Linked DNA regions of Homo sapiens. The gene in region 3 interacts genetically with the main gene of each other region. Each region holds a gene or a part of one and is shown on either strand. Other genes may lie near its edges.

The links.
Region 1: changes in RAB2A (region 3) and MTF2 together harm fitness more than expected from each alone (negative genetic interaction), as found in Homo sapiens cells (one large-scale study listed by BioGRID).
Region 2: changes in RAB2A (region 3) and CARM1 together harm fitness less than expected from each alone (positive genetic interaction), as found in Homo sapiens cells (one large-scale study listed by BioGRID).
Region 4: changes in RAB2A (region 3) and ARF1 together harm fitness more than expected from each alone (negative genetic interaction), as found in Homo sapiens cells (one large-scale study listed by BioGRID).
Region 5: changes in RAB2A (region 3) and SEC23IP together harm fitness more than expected from each alone (negative genetic interaction), as found in Homo sapiens cells (one large-scale study listed by BioGRID).
Region 6: changes in RAB2A (region 3) and TBL1XR1 together harm fitness more than expected from each alone (negative genetic interaction), as found in Homo sapiens cells (one large-scale study listed by BioGRID).
Region 7: changes in RAB2A (region 3) and RICTOR together harm fitness more than expected from each alone (negative genetic interaction), as found in Homo sapiens cells (one large-scale study listed by BioGRID).

The regions. Positions count from the first base shown.
Region 1 is NC_000001.11:93,110,283-93,113,782, forward strand, and holds part of MTF2 (metal-response element-binding transcription factor 2), read left to right. Parts: coding exon 1-146; intron 147-262; coding exon 263-344; intron 345-3,500. UniProt on the Homo sapiens protein: Polycomb group (PcG) protein that specifically binds histone H3 trimethylated at 'Lys-36' (H3K36me3) and recruits the PRC2 complex, thus enhancing PRC2 H3K27me3 methylation activity.
Region 2 is NC_000019.10:10,916,553-10,920,052, forward strand, and holds part of CARM1 (histone-arginine methyltransferase CARM1), read left to right. Parts: intron 1-143; coding exon 144-225; intron 226-3,042; coding exon 3,043-3,128; intron 3,129-3,324; coding exon 3,325-3,414; intron 3,415-3,500. UniProt on the Homo sapiens protein: Methylates (mono- and asymmetric dimethylation) the guanidino nitrogens of arginyl residues in several proteins involved in DNA packaging, transcription regulation, pre-mRNA splicing, and mRNA stability.
Region 3 is NC_000008.11:60,593,487-60,596,986, reverse strand, and holds part of RAB2A (ras-related protein Rab-2A), read right to left. Parts: intron 1-3,500.
Region 4 is NC_000001.11:228,085,708-228,089,207, reverse strand, and holds part of ARF1 (ADP-ribosylation factor 1), read right to left. Parts: intron 1-3,500. UniProt on the Homo sapiens protein: Small GTPase involved in protein trafficking between different compartments. Modulates vesicle budding and uncoating within the Golgi complex. In its GTP-bound form, triggers the recruitment of coatomer proteins to the Golgi membrane.
Region 5 is NC_000010.11:119,941,230-119,944,729, forward strand, and holds the end of SEC23IP (SEC23-interacting protein), read left to right. Parts: 3' UTR 1-3,428; downstream 3,429-3,500. UniProt on the Homo sapiens protein: Plays a role in the organization of endoplasmic reticulum exit sites. Specifically binds to phosphatidylinositol 3-phosphate (PI(3)P), phosphatidylinositol 4-phosphate (PI(4)P) and phosphatidylinositol 5-phosphate (PI(5)P).
Region 6 is NC_000003.12:177,019,483-177,022,982, reverse strand, and holds part of TBL1XR1 (F-box-like/WD repeat-containing protein TBL1XR1), read left to right. Parts: 3' UTR 1-3,500. UniProt on the Homo sapiens protein: F-box-like protein involved in the recruitment of the ubiquitin/19S proteasome complex to nuclear receptor-regulated transcription units. Plays an essential role in transcription activation mediated by nuclear receptors.
Region 7 is NC_000005.10:38,955,900-38,959,399, forward strand, and holds part of RICTOR (rapamycin-insensitive companion of mTOR), read right to left. Parts: intron 3,423-3,500; coding exon 3,296-3,422; intron 2,933-3,295; coding exon 2,768-2,932; intron 2,621-2,767; coding exon 2,544-2,620; intron 1,832-2,543; coding exon 1,753-1,831; intron 1-1,752. UniProt on the Homo sapiens protein: Component of the mechanistic target of rapamycin complex 2 (mTORC2), which transduces signals from growth factors to pathways involved in proliferation, cytoskeletal organization, lipogenesis and anabolic output.

The DNA.
Region 1 (3,500 bases), on a different chromosome or scaffold from region 3:
GAAACCAAAAGACCCCAACATCCTTGACCAAGCTGTCTTTACAGGATGGACATAAAGCCAAAAAGCCAGCATGTAAATTTGAAGAGGGTCAGGATGTCCTAGCTAGATGGTCAGATGGCTTGTTTTATCTTGGCACTATCAAAAAGGCAAGTTACTTTAATGTATCTTTTGCTGTTTTTGCAGTAAGCATTTAATAATCTTAAATTTAACTTCATGTTTTTAATTTTAAGAGATCACCGTTAAGTATTTCTCTGTATTGCAGATAAACATATTGAAACAGAGCTGCTTCATCATATTTGAAGACAGTTCTAAATCCTGGGTTCTCTGGAAGGACATTCAAACAGGCAGGTGCTACTATTTCTCTTGAACATGATTTAAATTAAAATTTGATTTTCTTCAACTTGTCATATTATGATGTTGTCTGTTGAATACAGTGTATTTAGATAACTCAGTATTACTTCCTAGGAGAGGTTAAAAAATCAGCATAGTCGTTATTATAGACCATAAGAAGAACAAGAATACTCTAGAGGACAGATGCATCACTAATTTATACCTGTAAGCTATGTTAAGACCCTTCTAAGAACTTTGAAGAAAAATCTTTAGTAACTAATCTCAGTAACGGTTTGGGATTCAATTCAACTGTTGCTTGCTTATATTTGTAGAAAGCAAGTGTTTATTGGGAGCATACTGTTTGTCAGATGATTTGGGAAATTAGGACATATAAAACTGATTTAGAATAATAGAAATATTCGTTAATAAGAATGGTTTAAAATTACCATTTAGTTATGGGTTTTTTATGTTTAAATGGGAAAATGAGGCTATATTTGTGTGCCAATAAAAATGAATGAAAGTATGCCTTGGTTTGGTTATAGGTATGCTTCTTGTGATGATTTCTATTATTAGAAACCATGATTGTTTCATGCTTTTAGCATCTGCTAAATATAGATGTTTTACCAGGTACCTCTTTCATGCAAAGTACTTTTAAAAATTACAATCTCTACTAAAAGCCTGAGTATTTTAGCTGTTCATTAAAGCCCTACTTTTGGTTTTCCTTTTGCTGGGTTAATAGGCCTACACTAAGACCCGTGTTTTGTGTATTCTCATAGAAAAGAGATAAATTTTCTCCCTAAAGGGTAGACACCTTGCCAAAGTATTTAACAATTGGGTTTTATATTTGAATACCAAGTTCAATTTTATGGTAGGTTTCTGCCATGTTTTAGTTCTTGACTTTACTCTTAATGTTTCTTAAAGAATAAAAAAAGTTTTGGTAAAGGAATTGGAATGTTCTAATTACCATCTGTATAGTTGGTACTCAGGGCTTAGGTGGGGAACTAAGTAGCTTTTACTCTGGTAAAATGTTTTTCTGGAGAAACTTTTTATGGTTCCTGGACTGATAAGTTTAAAGGACTAAAATTACATTTTGAATCTGAAATTGAGGAGCCAGAGAAAAGTGTGACTCATAAGATTTAAAGGGATAGGAGATCTCCAACACTACTAATATTGAGCAGATCTTACTACCCTGCACACAAAATTATTCTTTTTTCCTTATTTTGTAAACATAGGTCTCTCTGTAATAGCAGTGAAACATGTTATGCTGCTTTTTACTCCCCTTCCATTAGCTATGTGTTTCTTTCAGCTTTTGAAGATCTTTTGGAGTTTCCTGTGGATTTAATGTAATAGGTCTGTCTGTCCTTTTGTCTACTTCCTCCTTTCTACTTCTCCTCTGCTTTTAAAAGTGGTAGAAAAGAAGAAAACCAATGTTACATAGAGATAGAAAGTTGTTGTGTGAGGGGTTCTATAAGTCCTGCACTCAGTATGTCAGTTTAATGTTCTGTGGTTGTTCTTTCTTCACTGGTTCCTTTTGCTGTTCTTGGAATTACAAAGGATTGCTCCTGGTCATTTAACTCTTCTTAGCACCCTGATATTAGCACATATGAAACTTATAGTTGCTATAAAAATGAATAAATGAATCTGAAACCTGCGTTATGGCATATTTCAGTGAGGAGTGGGTTTAGTAGTTTTCTTCCCTGTAAGAAATCTGCCAATAATGTATATCAAAACTTAATAAATTATATTTGTCTAATGAGTTTCTTTTAAAAATTTTACATAAAGAAAAATATTAGTAGTCAACAGGGTGAAATATATCATGTTACAACTATTACATAAATGTAAGAGGGTTTTGAATCTTAGCATCTAATGCTGTTTTGGTTTCTGTGAAATGATATACTCTTGCATTGCTGGTGGCAGTGTAAATTTCTATTTTGGTGGTTTAGCATTTGCATTAAATGCAGAAGTTTATAATTATCTAATAGACTCCTTTCTAGCAGTTTATTCATAAGAAGTAATTCAAAAAATACTAGGTGAAAAATGTTTCCTGAAGTTTATTTTAACAACAACAAAAAATTTGGTATTTCTAAGATGAAATGGCCAAGGCTTTCTAGTCAATTGGATTTAGAGTAAAGGAGACTATAGAAGATTACTAAGCTATATAGGAAGGTTCTTGTAAACTTGATGGTAAAAAATATATACATATATGTTTGATTTCACAAGTAAAAGTTAATTCCCAGCTTTCTCAGGATTGTTTCTTGGGTCACTACCCCCTTTTCTGAGGAATTGCCTTCCCCATCATTAGTCCAGGTAGTTACAGTGAGAGTCAGGTCAGGCACCTCCCCTCGCGGGGCTGTTGTTCCATTTCCAGGGAATTGTAAATTTTCACAGAGAGTTCCCAGGCTTAATCTGGTTGCTCTCATGATCGGAACCATAAACCCAGAAGCTATGGGAGACCACCTTCAACGAAGTGTACCAAGAAGCAAACAGCTGGGCGCAGTGCCTTATGTCTGCAATCCCAGTGCTTTGGGAGGCCCAGGCAGGAGGATTGCTTGAGCCCAGGAATTTGAGACCAGCTTGGGCAACACAGGGAGATCCTGTCGCTACAAAAAAAAAAAAAAAAATAGGCATGGTGACACACACGCCTGTGGTTCCAGTTACTTGGGAGGCTGAGGTGGGAGCATTGCTTGGGCTTGGGAAGTCAAGGCTGCAGTGAGCTGTGGCTGTGCCACTGCACTCCAGCCTGGATGACACAGCAAGACCCTATCTGAGGGGAAAAATAAAAGGAAGCAAACAAAGCAGAAGAGAGAGGATGAGAGACCAGAACAAACAAATAAATAGCAGAAATACAAAAGACAGATTTCTCCCCCTCCAAAAAAAGAAAAACAGTTGGTAACCTGTATGTCCGAGAGTAGAGTAATAATGAAGTAAATTGGGTTATTTCCACTAGATGTAATACTATGCAGCTATTAGAAGTTACAATTTTGAAATGAAAAATGATTTTCATTTTCAATTTTGAGTGAAAAATGCTTTTGATAGAAGAAATATTACATAGTATTGATGAAGCATCTCGTAGTGGAGAGAACATGGATTTTGGCACATCTGGATTTGAATCCTAGTCTTGATGTTTTCTCAGGGTCTTTGGGTTAGTTACTTTGTCTGAGCCTCAGTTC
Region 2 (3,500 bases), on a different chromosome or scaffold from region 3:
GCCCCAGCTCCCCAGAGAGCCTGCACTCCTCTTTTTCTGAAAGACTTGGGCTAGATGAGGGCTGACTGGGAGAGAAGGCAGGGCTACCCCACCTGCCTCTTCTGCAGCCCTGACCTTGCTGTGGGGGTGGGGCCTGTCCACAGGTACCAGCCATCTTTCCATGGAGTGGACCTGTCGGCCCTCCGAGGTGCCGCGGTGGATGAGTATTTCCGGCAGCCTGTGGTGGTGAGTAGGGCCTCCAGGGTACTGCTGCAGTGATCACTTGCCATTGCTGTGCAGCTGTGCAGCCCTCAGGAAGCTACAGCCCCTCTCTGAGCCCTCTCCTCTGCCCTGCACAGCGCTCTCACAGAGATTTGGGCCAAAAGTGTCAATGCATGTAGACACTTAGCACACAGCACACATGCAATACATGTGGAACATTATTAGGTGAGGCTAAGGCAGAGGGGGCATTTAGGCTCAGGAGTTCAAGATCAGCCTGGGCAACACAGAGACGCCATCGCTATTTTTAAAATTAAAATAAATAAATAATAAAAATAAAAAAGAACCATTACTAGATGAATTTATCCTTGGTGAGCTGATGTGATTTATTGATTGATTTTACTTGAGATTTTTGATACATAGATCCATGATTTAAAAATCAAAAGGAAAAAAAAGCTAGGTGCAGTGGGTCACACCTGTAATCCCAGCACTTTGGGAGGCCAAGGCGGGCAGATCACGAGGTTAGGAGATTGAGACCAACACGGTGAAACCCCATCTCTACTAAAAATACAAAAAATTAGCCAGACGTGGTGGCGGGCGCCTGTAGTCCCAGCTACTCAGGAGGCTGAGGCAGGAGAATGGCGTGAACCCGGGAGGCAGAGCTTGCAGTGAGCCGAGATCGCACCACTGCACTCCAGCCTGGGCGACAGAGTGAGACTCCGTCTCAAAAAAAAAGAAAAAAAGGTTCCATTTTATTCTGTTTTCCCCCTGCTCTTGATGTTTTTCATTCGTTTTGGGAGACTCTTGGACTATCTTGGATACTATCTCTTTAAACACTACGTCTGCCCCATTCTTTCTCCTTCTGGGATTCCAATTACGTGTACAGTGAACCTTTTCACCATATCTCAGATGATTGTTATACTCTTTTCTGTCTTTTCCATCCATTTTTTTCTCTCATTTTCTTTTTCTTTTTTTTTTTTTTTTTGAGACGGAGTCTTGCTCTGTTGCCCAGGCTGGAGTGCTGTGGCATGATGTCAGCTCACTGCAACCTCCACTTTCCGGGCTCAAGCGATTCTCAGACTCCTGAGTAGCTGGGAGTACAGGCGCTTGCCACCACTCCCAGCTAGTTTTTTGTAATTTTAGTAGAGATGGGGTTTCGCCATGTTGGCCAGGCTGGTCTGAAACTCCTGACCTTAGGTGATCCGCCTGCCTCGGCCTCCCAAAGTGCTGGGATTACAGGCGTGAGCCACCATGCCCAGCGTGTTCAGTCTTTTGTGATATCACTGGGGAGTGAATGAGTGAAAAAAGCAGGAAATATTTTGGTGGTATTATGCAAATTTTGTATTATGATGAGGGTGCCTTGGAAGAGGCCACAGTTTGAGAAGGTGCTGCTTTATGGTACAGCCTTTGGTAATGTTAATGCAAGTCCAGTGGTTAGCCTCATTACCAATATGCTGCTGAACCACCCGTTAGCTTTTATTGTTTTTTGAAACAGGATCTCACTCTGTTCCCCAGGCTGGAGTACAGTGGCTCAATCACTTCATGGCTTACTTCAGCCTCGATCTCCCAGACGCAAGTGATCCTCCTGCCTCAGCTTCCCAAGTAGCTGGAACTATAGGAGTGTGCCACCATGCCCGGCTAATTTATTTTTTTGTAGATATGGGGCCTCACTGTGTTACTCAGGCTGGTCTTGAACTCCTGACCTCAGGTGATCCGTCCGCCTCGGCCTCCCAAAGTGCTGGGATTATAGGCATAAGCCACTGCACCTGGCGTTGAGCCTCTTATTAGCGGCTTTCTGCTTGGTGTCTTAGCCTCTGATGCCCTGCCTCGCTCAAAGCTCAGGAGTTGGCCAATTTCACAAGCGCACTGAGTGTGCACCGCCCACCTTGCCCTCCTGCACTTATTTCCCTTTGCTTTGACATCACAGCCCCTTGAATCCGAGCTGCCTTGGTAACCCTGAGCTCCCATTTTGCTTTCCCCACCCAAGGAAGCTGCTGAAAGGTCGAGGTGGCCGTTTTCTGCCCTCCCCATGGGGAAAAGGTAGAGGCCAGAAAGGGCTCCCTCCAGAAAGGGCATTTCCCTCCTTTCCAGGAGCTTGATCCCCAAAATCCTGGCCGCTCTGGTTGGTCACCAGTGCTTCCAACAACTGGTTTATTCTTTTCTTTGGATTTTATTCGGTTTACATAGTTCATGGCAGGTGTGTTAGTCGGATATAAACATTGCTGGGAGTGGACAGCAGCACTAGTGTTGTTGTTGTTTTTAAGAGACAGGGTCTCCCTGTGTTTCCCAGGCTTGATTCACACTCTCGGGCTTAAGCGATCCTCCTGCCTCAGCCTCCTGAGTAGCTGGAGTTACAGGCATACAATTCCACACCCAGCTAGCACCTAGTTCTTTAACTTGCTTTTTTGGTTAACTTGCTTAATGATTTAGCTTGGAGATCTTTCCTCATCTGTTCATAAAGAGCCTCTTCATTCTTTCTCACGTCCGCATGGTCTTTGATGGGAGAGCCATCACTGGTTTAATTAGATGGTTTCCAGTGTGTCGCTACCACGGACAATCTAATTATACATGTAAGTTTGTTGATGTGTTCATGTATCTGGAGGTTAAACTCCTGTAGTGCCAAATCTTTTATGTGGATAAACACTTGTCATTTGGAGAGCTGTCACCTGATTGCCCTCGGTGGCGTTGTGCCGGTCCCCTCCTCACGGCGTGTCTGGGAAGAGCAAGCTCGTTTTAGCTGCACAGCCTAGAAGCCGTGGGCAGACCTGGGGGAAGGGGCAGGGCTCTCCCCTCCCATGCTGGCCCTGGCGTCAGATGCCACGTCACACCTGTGGTCTCTCCCAGGACACATTTGACATCCGGATCCTGATGGCCAAGTCTGTCAAGTACACGGTGAACTTCTTAGAAGCCAAAGAAGGAGATTTGCACAGGTACTGGCACCCACACTCCATCCTCCCAGGCCTGGCTCAGGCCGAAGGTCAGGGCCACCCCTGGCTCCCGCCGGCATCCTGCCGTCCCAGGGCAGATGGTGGGCGGGGGCCCCAGGCCTCTGCACCTGGCACCCCCTCTTCTCTCTCGGCAGCGCCTGTCTGGCTTCCCCAGCAGCCACTGCCCTTTGCCTTCCAGGATAGAAATCCCATTCAAATTCCACATGCTGCATTCAGGGCTGGTCCACGGCCTGGCTTTCTGGTTTGACGTTGCTTTCATCGGCTCCATGTGAGTGCCGCAGAGCAGCCCATGCTGCCTCCTCCCCACTCCCAGGGCTTCCTGCAGCTGCAACCTGGCTGGGGGGGTGGAACATG
Region 3 (3,500 bases):
GTAAAAGTGTTCCTATTTCTCTACATCCTCTCCACCATCTGTTGTTTCCTCACTTTTATTTTTTTTGAGACAGAGTCTCACTCTGTCGCCGAGGCTGGAGTGCAATGGTGTGATCTTGGCTCACTGCAAGCTCCGCCTCCTGGGTTCATGCCATTCTCCTGCCTCAGCCTCCCAAGTAGCTGGGACTACAGGCGCCTGCCACCACGCCTGGCTAATTTTTTATATTTTTAATACAGATGGGGTTTCACCCTGTTAGCCAGGATGGTCTCATCTCCTGACCTTGTGATCCGCCCACCTCAGCCTCCCAAAGTGCTGGGATTACAGGCATGAGCCACCGCGCCCGGCCGTTTCCTCACTTTTTAATGATTGCCATTCTAACTGGCATGAGATGGTATCTCATTGTGGTTTTGATTTGCATTTCTCTAATGACCAGTAATAATGAGTTTTCATATGTTTGTTGGCCGCATAAATGTCTTCTTTTGAAAAGTGTCTGTTCATATCCTTCGCCCACTTTTTGATGGGGTTGTTTTTTTCTTGTAAATTTGTTTAAGTTCTTTGTAGATTCTGGATATTAGCCCTTTTGTCAGATGGATAGATTGCAAAATTTTTCTCCCATTCTGTAGGTTGCCTGTTCACTCTGATGATAGTTTCTTTTGGTGTGCAGAAGTTCTTCAGTTTAATTAGATCCCATTTGTCAATTTTGGCTTTTGTTACCATTGCTTTTGGTGTTTTAGTCATGAAGTCTTTGCCCATGCCTATGTCCTGAATGGTATTGTCTAGGTTTTCTTCCAGGGTTTTTATGGTTTTAGGTCTTATGTTTAAATCTCTAATCCATCTTGAGTTAATTTTTGTATAACGTATAAGGAAGAGACTTCTTCTTTTCTATTGTGTGCATTTAATGATATACATTTCCCTCTCGTAACACTGTTTTAGCTATTTTCCACAAATTGGTATGTTGTATTTTCATTCAGTTCAATGTGTTTTTTGTAATTCAAGACTTGCTCACTGACACACAGAAGCGTACTGTTTAGTTTCCAAGTATTTGTAGATTTTCCTATTTTCTGTTAAACTGATTTCTAGTTTAATTCCATTTTGTTTGGAGAATACATTCCGTATGATTTCAATACTTTAAAATCTATTGAGGTTTATTTTATGGCCCAGGACACGGTCTATCTTGGTATATATTCTGTGAGCACCTAAGGGATGCTGAAGTCTCCAACCGTAATTGTGAATTTCTCTATTTCTCCTCGCAGTCTATCAGTTTTTGCTTCACATATCTGGTACACGCATGTTTAGCACTGTCACATCTTTCTGGAGGGCTGATTCTTTTATCATTATATAATGTCCCACTCTGATAATTTTTTTCTGCCCTTAAGTTTATGTGATATTAATATAGCTACTCCTGTTTTCCTTTGATTAATATTTGTATAACTTTTCCTATCATTTTATTTTCAACCTAACTGTACTGTTGTATTTGGAGTGAGTTTCTTATAAATACCATATAGCTAAGTCATTGTTTTTAAAATTCTCTCTGCTAATCCCTTTTGATTTGTGTATTTTGACCACCAACATTTAGTTATTGATATATGAGGGCTTACATCTGACATTTTACTTTGTTTTCTATTTTCCTTCTCCTGCCTTCCTGTGGGCTAATCAAATCCCTTTATTCCCCATGGCTTATAATATTGTGGAATACACTGATAATCACATCAGACAGTGGTTACTTGTTTATACTTCAAACATCAAACATAATTTGCAAGACTTGAAGAAAAAAGTCTATCATATTTATCCATATTTTTGTTTCTTATGTTTTTTTCTTCCTTTATGGTGTTCTAAGATTCTTTCTTCAATCATTTCACTTCTATTAGAAAACTTCCTTTAGCCATTCTTTTATGCAAATCTGCTACTAATAAATTCTTGGTTTTTCCTTCTCTAAGAATGTCTTGATTGCACCTTCATTGCTAATTCTTTTTTTTCTTTGCTGGGTAAAGAATTCTGGGCTGATAGTTCTTTTCTTTCTGCTCTTGCAAAACACTGTGCTACGTATGTTTATTGTGGCAGTATTCACAATAGCAAAGACTTGGAACCAACCCAAATGTCCATCAATGGTAGACTGGATTAAGAAAATGTGGCACATATACACCATGGAATACTATGCAGCCATAAAAAAGTTGAGTTCATGTCCTTTGCAGAGACATGGATGAAGCTGGAAACCATAATTCTCAGCAAACTATCACAAGGACAGAAAACCAAACACCGCATGTTCTCACTCATAGGTGGGAACTGAACAATGAGAACACTTGGACACAGGGCAGGGAACATCACACACCGGGGCCTGTTGGGGGTTGAAGGGCTGGGGGAGGGATAGCATTAGGAGAAATACCCAATGTAAATGATTACTTGGTGGGTGCAGCAAACCAACATGGCACATATATACCTAGGTAACAAACCTGCTCGTTGTGCACATGTAACCTAGAACTTAAAGTATAATAAAAACAAACAAACAAACAAAAATCACTGTGCTATTTTCTCTGTCCTCCATGGTTTCTGATGAGAAATCTGCTATCATTAGAACTGTTTTTCCCCTATACGTAGGGTGCTATTTTTTGCTGCTTTCAAGATTTTTTTTTCTGTCTTTCACGTTCAGAAATTTGACCATACAGAGGTTCGTCATCATGTGGATTTGTCTGGGTTTAACCTCTTTGGGGCTGTCTTCAATCTGTAGGTTTATATACTTTTTGCCACATTTAAGAAGTTTTCAGCCATTATTTCTTTGAGTATTTTTCAGAGCCATTCCTTTTTCCTCTCCTTCTAGGACTTATGATGCATCATATAACGTCAGCTTTTGTTACAGTCCTATAAGTCCCTGAGGTAGTGTTCATTTGTTTCCTCAATTTTCTCTCTGCAGTTTAGACTAAGTAGTTACTATTGTTCTATCATCCAGTTCACTATTTCTTTCCTTTATCTCCATTCTGCTGTTGAGTCCATTCACTAAGTTTTTTTTTCTAGTGTACAAAGAGCTTTGAAAGAGTTTTAAAATTTCAATTATTGTATTTTTTTTTATTTTAAAATTCCTATTTGGTTCTTTTTTTTATCTTGCATTTCTTTTGCTCAGATTGTTTGTTTGCTAAGACTCTTCTGTTTCAAGCATGTTCCTTGTTTGTTGAGGCATTTTAATGATTGCTGCATTAAAATCTTTGTAAGATAATTCAAACACCACTGTCATTTCACTGTTGGCACCTATTATCTTTTTTTCATTCAATTTAAGATCTTCCTGGTTCTAGGTATGATGAATGATTTTCTATTGAAACATGGGTATTTTAGATACTATGTTATGAGACTCTGGGTCTTATTTAAACCACTGTTTAGTTGGCTTCCTCTCACTCCACTCCAACAAGGGAAATGGTGGTGGTAGGGTGCTACTTCATTACTGCCTGGGGATTGTGGAAGCAGAGCCACAATTTTTTCTGTGATGTTTGGCTACAGTAGAATGGTTACTT
Region 4 (3,500 bases), on a different chromosome or scaffold from region 3:
TGGTGGCCCCTACACAACGACCCCACATTTCTCTTCAAGACTTTAGACCCTCCTCCCAATTCCTGCCCCTTGACAGCCAGCTTTGCAGCCGAAACCCCCCTCCCAAACCCAACAGGCATTCTCCGCTGTGATGCGAGTAGCCTCCCTCCTGTTCCCCAGGCAAGAACCCCGTCTCCAGCCTCCTCCTGCGTGTTCTCAGCACACCAGTCAGCCAGGTGACCCGATGTTCTACTCAGAGCTGCCCCACGGCTGCCGCCCGATCAGGTCCTTGCAATAGGCTGCCTTGGTCCACAACATAATGCCCACACTGTGCTCTAAATGCTGCCTCTGGCAACCCAAAAGGAAGTAGAGACAGCATCCCAGCACTCGCACAAGACGGCAGAGAACCACTGCTCTGTCCCAACTATGATGCAATGGGGAGTAAAGGAAAGTGACTTCACAACCACGCTAGAGGACCAAGGGTGGCGGCCAGAGAACCACCCTTACCAGGCTGCTCATGCACTGACACCACCAACCTCAAGGGCAAGCCATGTCCATGAAGCAACTACTGTAGCTTTTCCTTCTGGAAACTGAATTCTTGCTGTGATTCTGAAGAGAACAATACACAGTCATCTTTGATTTATAAGGTGATTTTGTTCCTGGAACTTCAGAACACCTGTTAAAACTATGCACAAAAATTTTTTTTTCATATTTATAACAGGTCTGGGACATCAGACGACCTCCCCTACATGAAGGTCAGACAGGAAGTGTTCTTGCCACTGCCAAAGGTGCCAGTGCTGCCACCCAAAAATGCCACCACAGATTACCAAATTCCTTTTTCTGGGAACCGCGGACCCCCTCCGAGGGCCACTGCACACCCCAGCAGGCTTCCCACCCAGTATGCACCCTACTCCTGACAGGTCTCCAAACTCTGCCAGCCAGCGCACTCACCTCAGGGATTCTGCCCTGATTGTCCCGGGCCACTCCTTCACATCTCTGCTCACATGGCACCTGTCAAATGACACTCAGCCCCTTCCGGATGGTCCTGGTATCTCCCTGCCTTCCCTCCACCAGTGTGGGCAGCTCTGTGTGGCACTCACCGTCACAGCCACTGCCCCCGTGGAGCCTCATGCTCATCAAGCAGGGCTTCCTTTGCCCAGAACAGGCCTTCCTCCCCAGCCTCCCACCCTCTTCCGCTGGGCACTGCACAAGTGACTCACCACCAAGGAGAGGAGAAAACAATGGCAAAAGAATGTTTATCAGGCCCATAGGGCTCATGAAGATCAACTGTACACATCTGCAGATGTGCTTTCCCTAAAAATTAAGTTCGTCACGAAAAACCTATCGCATCAACAAGGAATTGCATGCTTTTTAAAAACTGTACTCATGTGTGGGTCAGTCTGAACATTCTTTTGACCATAAAAATGTGGGAAAATGGGGTTGTAGATGCTGTTAACTACTGAAGGCAAAAGTGTGGCAGCTCAGTGATGTCAGACACAAGAGGGAGGGAAGGATGTGTGTTCAAAATCTGTTTTCTAAACCTGCCCCCAGGTCCTCAGCTGATGAGTAGGTATAAATTTTTTTAAGAGCTAAGGGTCCTGCTCTGTTACTCAAGCTGGAGTGCAGTGGTTATGATCACAGCTCACTGCAACCTTGACCTCCTAGGTTCAAGTGATCCACTCTCCTGCCTCAGCCTCCCAAGTAGATTGCACTACACAGGTGTGAGCCACAGTGCCTGGCTAGTACAAATATTTTAAGGAAAATGTCACCACCAAAATTGCCAGAAGATGTATTCATAGTATTTTAAATATAAATCAATAAATTTGATTGGTGAGTGAGCAACTGCATTCCCATCTACAGAAGGTACAAAGCACAGGCACATCTAACTGCCTCCGTTCCCAATCCCCAGGATGAGTATAGATGATAGCTTCTTGGCCATTTGTACCTAAATCAAACCTATAAAATACTTAAAAGTTTCCCGCATAGCGTATATGGTACTGCAAAAATAACTTGCTGTATGACACAAATGGAAAGATGTCTCATGTCTAGCCATGCTACCACTGGAAGCCCTTTGGAAATGAATCTTTCTAGCTTGCTGGCATCCCTTCAGGGAGTAAAAACTATTTTAATACATTCTGCCTAGAAGGCTTTCAAAATATACTATTTTGAGGACATAGGAAAACCCAAACTCAGTTTCTCACACACTCTTATAACACAGGTCGCTTCTCACACCACATGAGCAGGGGTTTCTCCCTACATGCCAAGCAAGCAACCAGTTCTGCGTTCTGCAGCAGACACCAGCTAGGTGTCGTTTAATTCAGTTCAATTCTGACACTGTCTACCTGGAGGCAATCACAAACTCCAGGTTATTTTACCTGTGCTTCTGGACAGCCATCTATAAATCAGGGTTCCCATAACTCCTTCCCCTTGGGTTCAATTAATTTGCTAGAGTGGCTCACAGAACTCAGAAAAACACTAAAGGTTACTGGTTTTTCATAAAGGATGTTACAAAGGATACAGATGGAGAGATGCAGTGGGCGGTGTATGAGGGAAGAGACACGGCGCTACCTTTCCCTCCTGGCTGTGCCATTCTCCAGGAACCTCCATGAATTCAGCTTTCTGGAAGCTCTCTGAAAACCCAGGCAGGCCTTTCGGGTATTTCCCATCAACAAGGAATTTCATGCTGTTTCTTTTTTTTCTTTTTTTTTTTTTTGAGACAAAGTCTCGCTCTGTTGCCCAGGCTGGAGTGCAGTGGCGCGATCTCTGCTCCCTGCAAGCTCCACCTCCCGGGTTCACGCCATTCTCCTGCCCCAGCCTCCCGGGTAGCTGGGACTACAGGTGCACACCACCACACCTGGCCTATTTTTTTGTATTTTTAGTAGAGTCGGGGTATCACCATGTTCGCCAGGATGGTCTCAATCTCCTGACCTCATGATCCACCCGCCTCAGCCTCCCAAAGTGCTGGGATTACAGGCGTGAGGCACTACGCCCAGCCTCATGCTGTTTCAAAATTGTACTTAAGTGTGGTTCAGTCTGAACATTCCTTTGTACAAATGTGGAAACACGGGGCTGTAGATGCTGTTAACTACTGAAGGCAAAAGTGTGACTTCATGGTATAGGTGTGATTGATTAAATTATTGGCTATTGGTGACCAGCTCAATCTTCAGTCCCTCTCCACTCTGGGAAAATTGGAGGGTGGGGCTGAAACCCTCTAATCCTGCCTTGGCCCTGTGACTAGCCCTACCCTGAAGTTTCGTAGGGGCTGCCCATCACTGGTCAACTCATTAGGGTACAAAAAGACATCATCACTTCGGAGATTCCAAGTATTTTAGCCAGGAAATGGGAGGCAGGCCAGATATGTATTTTGCAATCCACAACTATAGACTTCTAACTTCCTGAAATGTTCATGGACTGAATCAACTCTCCTGTCCACTTCATGCTGTACACCAGCAGTGAGCCCTGGGCCTCAAGGGTGTGGGAGAATGTCTGCCTTCTAAACAGAATCATTTTCAATTGCTGTG
Region 5 (3,500 bases), on a different chromosome or scaffold from region 3:
CTGGGAAGCGCTCTCCTAGCACGTCCATTTCCAGGAGGAGAAGCAAGCAGATGAGAGGTTTTCCATTTTGTCATCCAAGGTAGCTGTGCACTTGCCTTGTTGCTGAAGTTCCAATAATGTGAAAACCAAAGTAGAGGTTTTTTTCTTCTTCTTTTTGTTTTCTATTAATTTCACTTATACCAAAGTGTTTGAAAGTATGAAATGTGTTGCTTCTGAGTTATATAAGGCTACTTCATGACAAGACTGCTTTGTAATATTTCACTTTGTTTTACTACAAATTCAGATCACTTTGTTTTACTATAAATTCAGATTATCCAAATATTTTCCTAATACTATGTGGGAATGCTGATTTTCTTTTGTTACGTAGTGGAAACATTTTGCATTGTTTACATAGTTCTCATGGAACATGGAAATTTTTGAAAGTGATATATGATACACATTTTTTGTGTATGTATTCTAATTAGTGTGAATAAAGCAGTAACATTAATGCATTTTTTAAGCAGCAAACTTATGTATTTCTCTTGTCTTCCTTAAAAGTGTCCCCATGAACTCAGTGTTTATTCCCTTTTCATTTTGAGTACCTGCTTATATGGTCAGTATGTAACGTTAGCATTGGCTCCTAATGGTAGAATTAGAACAGCAAGATTGTAGAGCTGTAATTGACTCCAGACAACATAGATTTCAGCCACCTCATTCTACAGCTGAGGCCAGGACAATAAATGCCTTTCCCAGACTGGGTAGTGGCAGATCTGGGATGGAATATGGTTTTCTTGATTCCCTTTCAGCCTTCATTTCTCTCTCTCAGGACTACTACTTTTTAATTACTTTTCACTTAATTTCCCAATACTGATGAAATAAAGAAAAATGAGGGTTATTTATATACATTTCAATAAAATCCAATTTGATTTTTCAACTTACATCTGATTTTTGTTTGTGTCATTCAGCCTGTCTTCTGAGTAATGGGCAGAGAAGGACCAGGGTTCGTAGAAGAAGCATGTGGCAGCTGAGTGGCAGCAGTCTTGCCCTTTCATTTTAATACTTGAGTACACAGAAAATAGAATTTTTGAGTGACTCTGCCTGTGGATATATATACTCATACATACATATATATATATACACACACACATATGTATGTATGTATGTATTACTATTCAGTCTCTTAAAAACCAAAAAACAGTAGATCCCCTGAGGGTAGAGTCTTTATGTATGAACATATTGTTCACTGTTGTAACCACCTTGCAGGATTTCAGTCTATAAACTAGGTGAGAATCCAGCTGCTGAGTGAAGCTTGATCTCTGCCTCTTCCTCAGGAGCAGCTCATCCCCTGACAACCTCCCCTCCCAGCCCCTAATCTGGTTTAATGCCCTCCTTTTCCCCAGATAAAGAAAGTCATGTCTGTAGTTATTCCAAAAGTGTTTCATGTGTAGAGTTTGGCACAAAAAGTAAAAAGCGCCAGCATCTGAAGTCAAAGGTGAAAGAGTCATCACAGTACTGATGAAGACACCCAGGCCTCGTCAGCTATGTTAACGTGCTGTATGACAAGAGGAACCTGCTTTCTAAGTCTGCTGGACACGCGTGCTTCTTGAATCCAACCAGACAAGCATGTTTTCTCAAAACCACAGTATAAGACAAGGAAACTGCACAGATTCGAGTGATTTTTGAGGTAAGTATGTTATTGGAAAGGTGTGATCTATATAGAACCCTGTACATGAAAAGGAGGAGATGCCGCTATCTTGGCAGGGATGATCATGTATTTGAAATAGTAACTCACAGCATTTGGTCTCATGATAAGAGTACTGAAGATTATCCCAGAAAACCTAGGATGATTGGTATTTATAGTACCATTGTTTCAGGTTTTTATGACTTGAGGCATCTAACTATCTTAATGCTGTACTTTAGTGTTTACCAAGCAGCTTTCTGGTGGAAACTTGAACTGCAGACACTGAGTGTTTTGGTTTTCCTCCAAGTTATAGTTCTCATTGTAACTTAATAAGTTGGCATTCCAGCTTAGTTTGAGTCAGTTTCCCAGGGCTGGGTCCTCAGAGGAGAGTGGATAGAATTCAGTTCCTCTATGAGCTGGGGTGCTGACATTGTGTTCCTGCTGTTGACTGTCCCTGCGGTGCACGGGACAGACTGTCAGCTAACCTGTCTTCATGACATTTCTATAATACTCCTCAGGGGGTTAACCCCATCTCTACTAAAAATAAAAAAAATTAGCTGGGCATGGTGGCATGTGCCTGTAGTCCCAGCTACAGGAGGCTGAGGCAGGAGAATTGCTTGAACCCAGGAGGTGGAGGTTGCAGTGAGTTGGGATCTCGCCACTGCACTCTAGCCTGAGTGACAGAGCGAGACTCTGTCTCAAAAAAAAATAAATGAATAAAAAATAAAACAGCAACTCTTGCAGATTTCCCGAATGTATTGGTCCCAGAGAACACTGAAAATAATGTCATGTTGTTAACACCAGTGGGAGTTTGGGAAATAATTCCAGCTCTTTAATACTTCTTTCAGCTTCAGATTAAGTGAAATGAGTTTCACATATTTCAATATATGAAATTTTATGATGACACATAAAACAGGCCAGGGGTTATTGAGGACACATCTGTGAGATAGTGGGCAATGCTACATATTCGTTAGTGGATGTGCTGCAGTTCAGGTTCATGGACAGGTGGGACTGGTGTGGTTGGGATAACCCACCATGTTTGTCTTTCATTTCTTGTATAAAGAGTGGTTTTTAAAAGACCTTACTATGGAATTTTCACAAATACTCAAAAGTATGGAGAATGGTACAGTGAATCCCCATGTGCCCTTTTCCCAGCTTCAGGGGTGGTGTCAGTGATAATGATTTGGCTCTGTGTCCCCACCCAAATCTCATCTTGAATTGTAATCCCCACGTGTCAGGGGAGGGACCTGGTGGGAGGTGATTGGATCATGGGGGCTGTTTCCCCATGCTGTTCTTGTGATAGTGAGGGAGTTCTCACAAGATCTGATGGTTTTAAAAGTGGCAGTTTTCCCTGCACTCTCTCCTGCCACCTTGTGAAGAAGGTGCCTGCTTCCCCTTTGCCTTTCGTCACAATTGTAAGTTCCCCGAGGTTCGTCATGATTGTAAGTTTCCTGAGGTCTCCCCAACCATGCAGAACTGTGAGTCACTTGAACCCCTTTTGTTTATAAATTGCCCAGTCTCAGGTAGTACCTTGATAGCAGTGTGAAAATGGACTAATACAGTCAGGGACCTAAAAGACAGGTAAAGAGATGTGGCCAGGTGAAGACGGAAAAAGGACAGTGCATTCCAGACCTGTGGAAAGACGCGAGGTTGGAAAGAACATCACAACTGGGGCGACTGAAGAAATTATGTTGTTAAGCACGAAATGCAGAGAGAGAGCTATGTGAATGTGTTGAGTGTGATTTTCATTAAACAATTTTTAAAGAAAGCATTTCTAGTGGTGCTTTTATTTTTGCAGCCGCTTAATAGCATTCACTCTTGTTGAAAGGAGCACAGTTTG
Region 6 (3,500 bases), on a different chromosome or scaffold from region 3:
TAGGACATATAAAAGATTATAAATACAGAGCTTTATTATCCTGACGTCTTGGGTCTTTTAAGTATATACTTTTCTGAAAGGTATCCATTTTGTAGGCTTGGGTTCTTCATGAGCATACGATTGTTTATTTTTGCTGCTGTTCTCAACATCATCATTGCCTGCTGATGTGCCACGATGCTGCTCCAATAGACAGCAATAAGATTGTCTCTAATTTGAGCAGTAACATGATTGCAAGAGACCAAGTTTCACAGCTTGTAAAGTTCTGTATTTGGGATTCTTGCTTATTTTTCCGCCTGTGTTTTTCTGAGAACTTATTCCTGATGATCAATTGAATCCAGTAGTTTTTCTATGCTATTTGTTGTTGTATAAGCTACTGTAAGAAACTTATCATAAGGAAAAATAGAAAGGAAAACTTGAATCAATACTCATTGATTAAAATGGAATAAAGAAAGAGCAGCTGCCACTTTTAAACAACATAAAGGAATATCTTTTTTTGTCTCCGTGTAGGAAATCCCATAAGTTCTTATATTTGTTCCAGTTCCCATTTCCTGCCATTGACCAGATAACATCATTGACTTTCAAATGACTTTTAGAAGTGATAACTCTTAATTTCCTAATAGATACTAGATTGTATTGAATTCTGTTTTAATTATTCTCTAGGTAAGTATGTTTTAGGATTAAATACCTTTTACAGATACTGAAAGTGCCTCCTTTTGTGGTGTAAAAAACAAATTATGGTGCAAAAAGTAATCACTAGATTGAAATACATGAAGGTTTTTTGCTTTTTGACATACGAAAATGTCAAGAGAAAGGCCAAAGATTTGTACTTTTTCACTTACAAAGCACTCCTTTTTCCCTTAAACTTCTTTCTGTCAAATTAGATTTAATGAGAGAGTACTATTTTTAAGGAGCTATCTGTTTATGTAGAATGATTTTGTTAAGAGTAATGTAAACTATTATTGAGTAGAGGCCTAAAGAGGACTGTGCATTTTTGCTATTTAAAGGAATCACAAATGATCATACTTAAGTGAGCAAAAATGACAAGTTTTACTAGCTAAGTAGAGAAATAAATCTCAAATGCAGCGCTACAATTTTCATTATCTTAAGTACATTGTACATTTCTACAGAACCTGTGATTATTCTCGCATGATAAGGATGGTACTTGCATATGGTGAATTACTACTGTTGACAGTTTCCGCAGAAATCCTATTTCAGTGGACCAACATTGTGGCATGGCAGCAAATGCCAACATTTTGTGGAATAGCAGCAAATCTACAAGAGACCCTGGTTGGTTTTTCGTTTTGTTTTCTTTGTTTTTTCCCCCTTCTCCTGAATCAGCAGGGATGGAAGGAGGGTAGGGAAGTTATGAATTACTCCTTCCAGTAGTAGCTCTGAAGTGTCACATTTAATATCAGTTTTTTTTAAACATGATTCTAGTTAAATGTAGAAGAGAGAAGAAAGAGGAAGTGTTCACTTTTTTAATACACTGATTTAGAAATTTGATGTCTTATATCAGTAGTTCTGAGGTATTGATAGCTTGCTTTATTTCTGCCTTTACGTTGACAGTGTTGAAGCAGGGTGAATAACTAGGGCATATATTTTTTTTTTTTTTGTAAGCTGTTTCATGATGTTTTCTTTGGAATTTCCGGATAAGTTCAGGAAAACATTCTGCATGTTGTATCTAGTCTGATGTACTTATCCATCTCATTACAAACAAAAACACACAGACTGCATTTGTAGCTCTGTAATCCTTGAATACGGAAGTAAATTTTCTTCTTTCCTGACTTTGACATTGTAGCTATACTGTTTCCATTTTTGTTTTTACAAATCCTTTGGGTCTAATTCTGTGAGCCTACCTATAGCACTGGATTAAAATGTCTGCATCATTTCTTTAGTTATCCAGTTAACTTTAAAACTGTTGTAAAAGTGTAAACCAGCCCATGACAGGTTTTTGTACATGTTAAAGAACTTCATTGTTCAGTTTTCATGATTATTGTGTAAGGAAGACTGATGTAGATGTTCTGTGCTGTCCTGGACCATGTTAATTACACTTACGACGTATTTTAGTTCCACATCACAATGATTTGTCCCCAGTGACCCTTTTATCCTTTCTAGGCACATTTCTTGTTGTTGTTGTTGTTGCAGTTCCCCTTTGCATTGTATTGCTTTGACAACTGTAATTTGAATCAGATCTGAAAGAGGTCCAGAATAAAATATATTTTGATATTATGTTGGCTGTGTACATATATAAAACCTTTGATGTCTATGTAGTTTATATAGACTATTTACTAGTCAGGTAAAGAGAGAGGGATGGTATTTCTTGTTTACAGTTTGTTTACATTTTAATTGCTTTTACTTCTCCAGTGTTCTATTGTAGAATAAACCTTTTTTTCCAAGTTAGCCTTCATAACCTATAACACATTCATTCTCTCCCATACTGGTGTTACTGATTAATAACTGCCATCAGAACCCAAACCACTGTTTTTCATAAACGTATTGTTTCCCAAGATATATACTTTAAGCCCATAATAAAATTACAAATTTTACTATTTTTATTACTTCTTGCAGGAGATAAGATTTTTTTAAATGAAGGGGTTATTTACTATTTTTATTAAAGTATAATAGAGCATCTAATCAGCTAAGGGATTGTAATTTTTAATTCTTTTGAAAAATAAATATTGTATTTAAAAGACGTTATTTCACAGAAGCTGAAAAAGAGACCTTAGATAACATTTGTTTGGTTAGCCACACGGTTGAGCACAAAACAATGTGTAGATGTGTTGAAGATTAGGGCAGGAGGCTCAACTTCTCGGTGACCTTTTTTTGCTTCACAACAAGCCAATTATAGTTGAATCATTTTCTCTCTTAGCTAGTTGTTACTACAAACTTTATAAGAAAAACAACTAGACACCTTCTAGTTTTAATTAATACCAACTCCTTTAGAGTTAGAGACTTTTTAAAAAGAATCATTGAGCATATTTTCTTTTTTTTTTTTTTAAGAATTTACACTCTCTAGGTCTTCTATTTTTCCTGTTTATTTCCTTAAACAGAAATAAATTCAAGCATAGTTTTATGTTTTATTAGAAATAAGCCACTGCAGTTGCTAGAACTGACATGCTTTCATTTTCAAGGGGTTAACTTTTATTGCATGGCATAGATTATTAGTAATATCCTGCATTGTATACTTTTCCAAAAAGGGTTGGACTCCTAAGGATTAGAATCCTTATAAGCTTGAGGGAAAGCTGAAACTAATTTGAACAGTAATAGAAGGGATTATTTTTAATTTCATAGTTAACACTTTACAATGGATTAGATTTATTACCTAGTATAATCCGTAGCAGATCAGATCAAAGTTTACTGTTTTACCAATATATTCATTTGAAAAAATACAGTGGAGGAAAAGACACTTTAGATGGTAGTTTTATGGTGCTTTTCTCTGCTGTACCAAAGTGCTTTGTCATCAATGAAATGTTAACCCTATGCTACTTTTTCTGCATGCT
Region 7 (3,500 bases), on a different chromosome or scaffold from region 3:
AAATCTGAGCTCCAGATCCACATTTTCAAGCCATCACGTGGTTACTGCACAGACAATGCCAGTTCAACATATTGAAAATTCATTAGCCTAATCTTGAATCACTTTTTATAAATGTGATCTCTTAATAGTGATCCATTATATATTGTCATTAAATTAGAAACCTTATGAGCCAAGTTGGACCTCTTATTTACTGTATCCAATCAGCCCACAAATTCTGTCCATCTTATTTTGAAAATACCCAGAAAATGCGTCCTCATCTAATCAACCTAACTACCAGTGAAGTTCAGGCACTCATCAATTCTTGTTTCTAAACTTGTGTCAATATTTCTAGACTTTACCTTCAATGATCAAAATTCCTCCTCTTCACTGCAACCTGTCAGATTACTAAAGCACAACTCTGATCACTCTTTAAAAGCTGTTAAGGATTCCCCACTATATATACAATTGAAATCCCTTAGGATGATATAATATGGCTTACGAGGCCTTTTACAATCTAGCTTTAATTTACCATTCCAGCCTCATCTTGCCACTCCACACTTACCTTAGTTCCAACTACATTGGAATATGACTTTCTTCATAAGTCTATAATGTTCCAATGATCTATACAGCTTTATTCTGCTCCTTCTTCCGTGGATACCCTTCTTCTAATTTATTTGCCTACTTACTCCTCAAGACCATTTCAAGTATCACATCTACGGCTCCTATTCAACATTTCTTTTGATAATCCCTAAGGCAGAATCATTAATCTCTCCTCTGTGTTCCCTTATACCTTGCATGTAACTTTGTTATAGCTCTTATATTTTATGCTATTTTCAAGCACTGCACCAATATTCTAAGCAATTTTCTAATACTATGATTTGTATAATAAATTTTATTATGATGATTTAAATATCTTCTAGGAAACAAACCTATCACATCTTGTCTCAGTTCTACAATTCATCAAATACTAAAAGACTTCATGCCTTAAGTTGTATGCTTGGAAGTTTTAGTCCATTTAAGGAGTATCTCTTATGAAATATGGTTCAATATAGACACTATAAAAGAATGTGTAACTATGTTAACAAAAAAGAGAAAACAGGATAACTGATCTGAAATGATGAAAAATCTAAAAATCATTTATATCGGTAAAGATCATTTTGACCATGGGTTTCCAAGATGCTTCGATGACTTATAATACTTCAAACAAAATAATGAAGCCACAGCAATCACCAGCTAAAGAAAAGCTAGAAAAGTTGTTTCATATCTTCAAACTACTCCCTTCTTAGCAGGTTTCCCTATGACAGCAAGAAGTTCATTCTCAGATTTAGGTAAAGTAGTATCCTAAAGTAAAGTTTAACTAAATGATTATATCTCCTTGGGATTTCAATCTCCCTTCATTTAAAAAAATTATTTTGGTTTTAGCTTAAAGGGCTCATGCAAAGTTGTAGGCCATATTAAGGGACCGAAGAATGAAAGAAATGATAAACAGGGCCAAAAATTAGATTATAAAATCAAATGAGTTGAGAGTCAAATTTCAATAGAACGAATACAGTCAACAGTTCAGAATGAAAGAAATAACTGTAGTTTAAAAAAATGTATAACTATAAATACTAGCAATTATGCAGAATTTAGGATTCAACTTGATATTGATGTTTAAATATTTAACCTTATTAATTTCAAAACACTGATATAAAAAAACCATCCTCTAAATTCACAAATCAATTTCAGAAGATAAAAACACACAAATTCAACTTTATTCAAATAAGAAGTTACCCTGTGCCACTTTTCCAATTGTTTTGCTACATAACCTCTTTCATTCAGATAGGAAAATCCTTTTGGAATGGAGAGAAATCTGCAAATTAAAACAAGCAATAGTTTAACATTGAGTCTGGCAAAAACGTATCTTAAGAAGCTAAAATAACTAAAATTTAAAAAAGTATAAGGAGCTAAAAGACTTTAGGAATAGTTCGTTCCTAAAACTAAAAGGTCAACTATAATTTATTATAACTTCAATTACAAATAAATTTTCACAATCTTTGCAACAACACGCGAACCCAATCACAATAAAGAAAATGTCAGCCAGGCACGGGGGCTCACGCCTGTAATTCCAGCACTGTGGGAGGCCAAGGTGAGTGGATCACCTGGTCAAGAGTTCAAGACCAGCCTGGCCAACATGGTGAAACTCCAACTCTACTAAAAATACAAAAAATTAGCTGGGCGTGGTGGTGTGCGCCTTTAGTCCCAGCTACTTGGGAGGCTGAGGCAGGAGAATCACTTGAACTTGGGAGGCAGTGGTTGCATCGAGCCAACATTGGACCATTGCACTCTGGCCTGGATGACAAAGCGAGGCCGTCTCAATAAAAAAAAGGAAAATGTCATGAAAAGTATGAACAGACCAAAAAAATTAAAAAAAAAGAAAAACCCAAAATAATGAAAAGACAATGTTTCAATATTAAAAGGTAAACTCTTCAGCGTACTTCCCATTTGGATTTGAATCTATCTTTAATATACACTGCCAAAGAACACAACAAAAAAACATAACAGAAAATTTACTTAAAATTTACCTCAGCAGGAGAAGCAAACCCTTGTCTCCAAGGTGGGATAACGCTGGTTTCATCTGAATGAGAGCATGAAGATTGGCCTAAAAGAGATTATCATTATTTTTTTATAATTGCACAAAAATAGCAAAATTTTTAGTTCCAAAATGCCTATTATATACTTTTACATAATTGTCAAATGAGTATTTCAAAAAAATTTAAGTATTAAATTATAAAAAATGAACCTTTACCTTGTCTTCACATGCTTCATCGAGGATATCAAGAGCTTCAGAGGAAATCGTTTTGTTTTTATCATGTAGCTGGGTCACTAACAACTCAATTCCCCAATTATTAAAGAATTCAACATTAGCTCTCAATAATACCCTTAAATGTTTTGTTGCATAGAGTCTGCAGGCCTATAAGGATAAATGAATACATTAAAAAAAAAAAAAACTTCAGCATAAATAGCCTATTTGATTTTATTTTGGGATAGTCCTGCTACTTGAAAAGGGAAGAATGCCTGGAATTGGTGGTCTAGCCCTTGATATGAATACTTTTTTGGTTCTTGTGAAATAGAATACTTCCCTTTCTATCTAGCAGCTTCTTCCCCCGATACAAAAATCTGAGTACTATATGCAGTTCCTTGGAGAAACTAAAATTTTAAAGTAAACTCAATTTCCATATCATATTCTTAGAACTTAATTTTACTTAGCCCAAAATTCATAAAGTAGTGAATTAATTGGTTATAAATATAGTTTTACTGGCTATGTTATACTCACATCAGTAGCTGCAGTTAAAATTTTGGAAAGGATGACTCTAGCCAATCCATCTCTGCTATAGTCCAAGCTAGAAACAGTAAGTTTTAGCAAGTGATCTTGGTTTTTCAAGGAGCAAAGATTAAGGAGACTTAAAAGAAAAAAAAAATAAGAATGGTTAAAAGAAATTACTATATTGATACATTAATTAAACAAATATTTTTTCCAG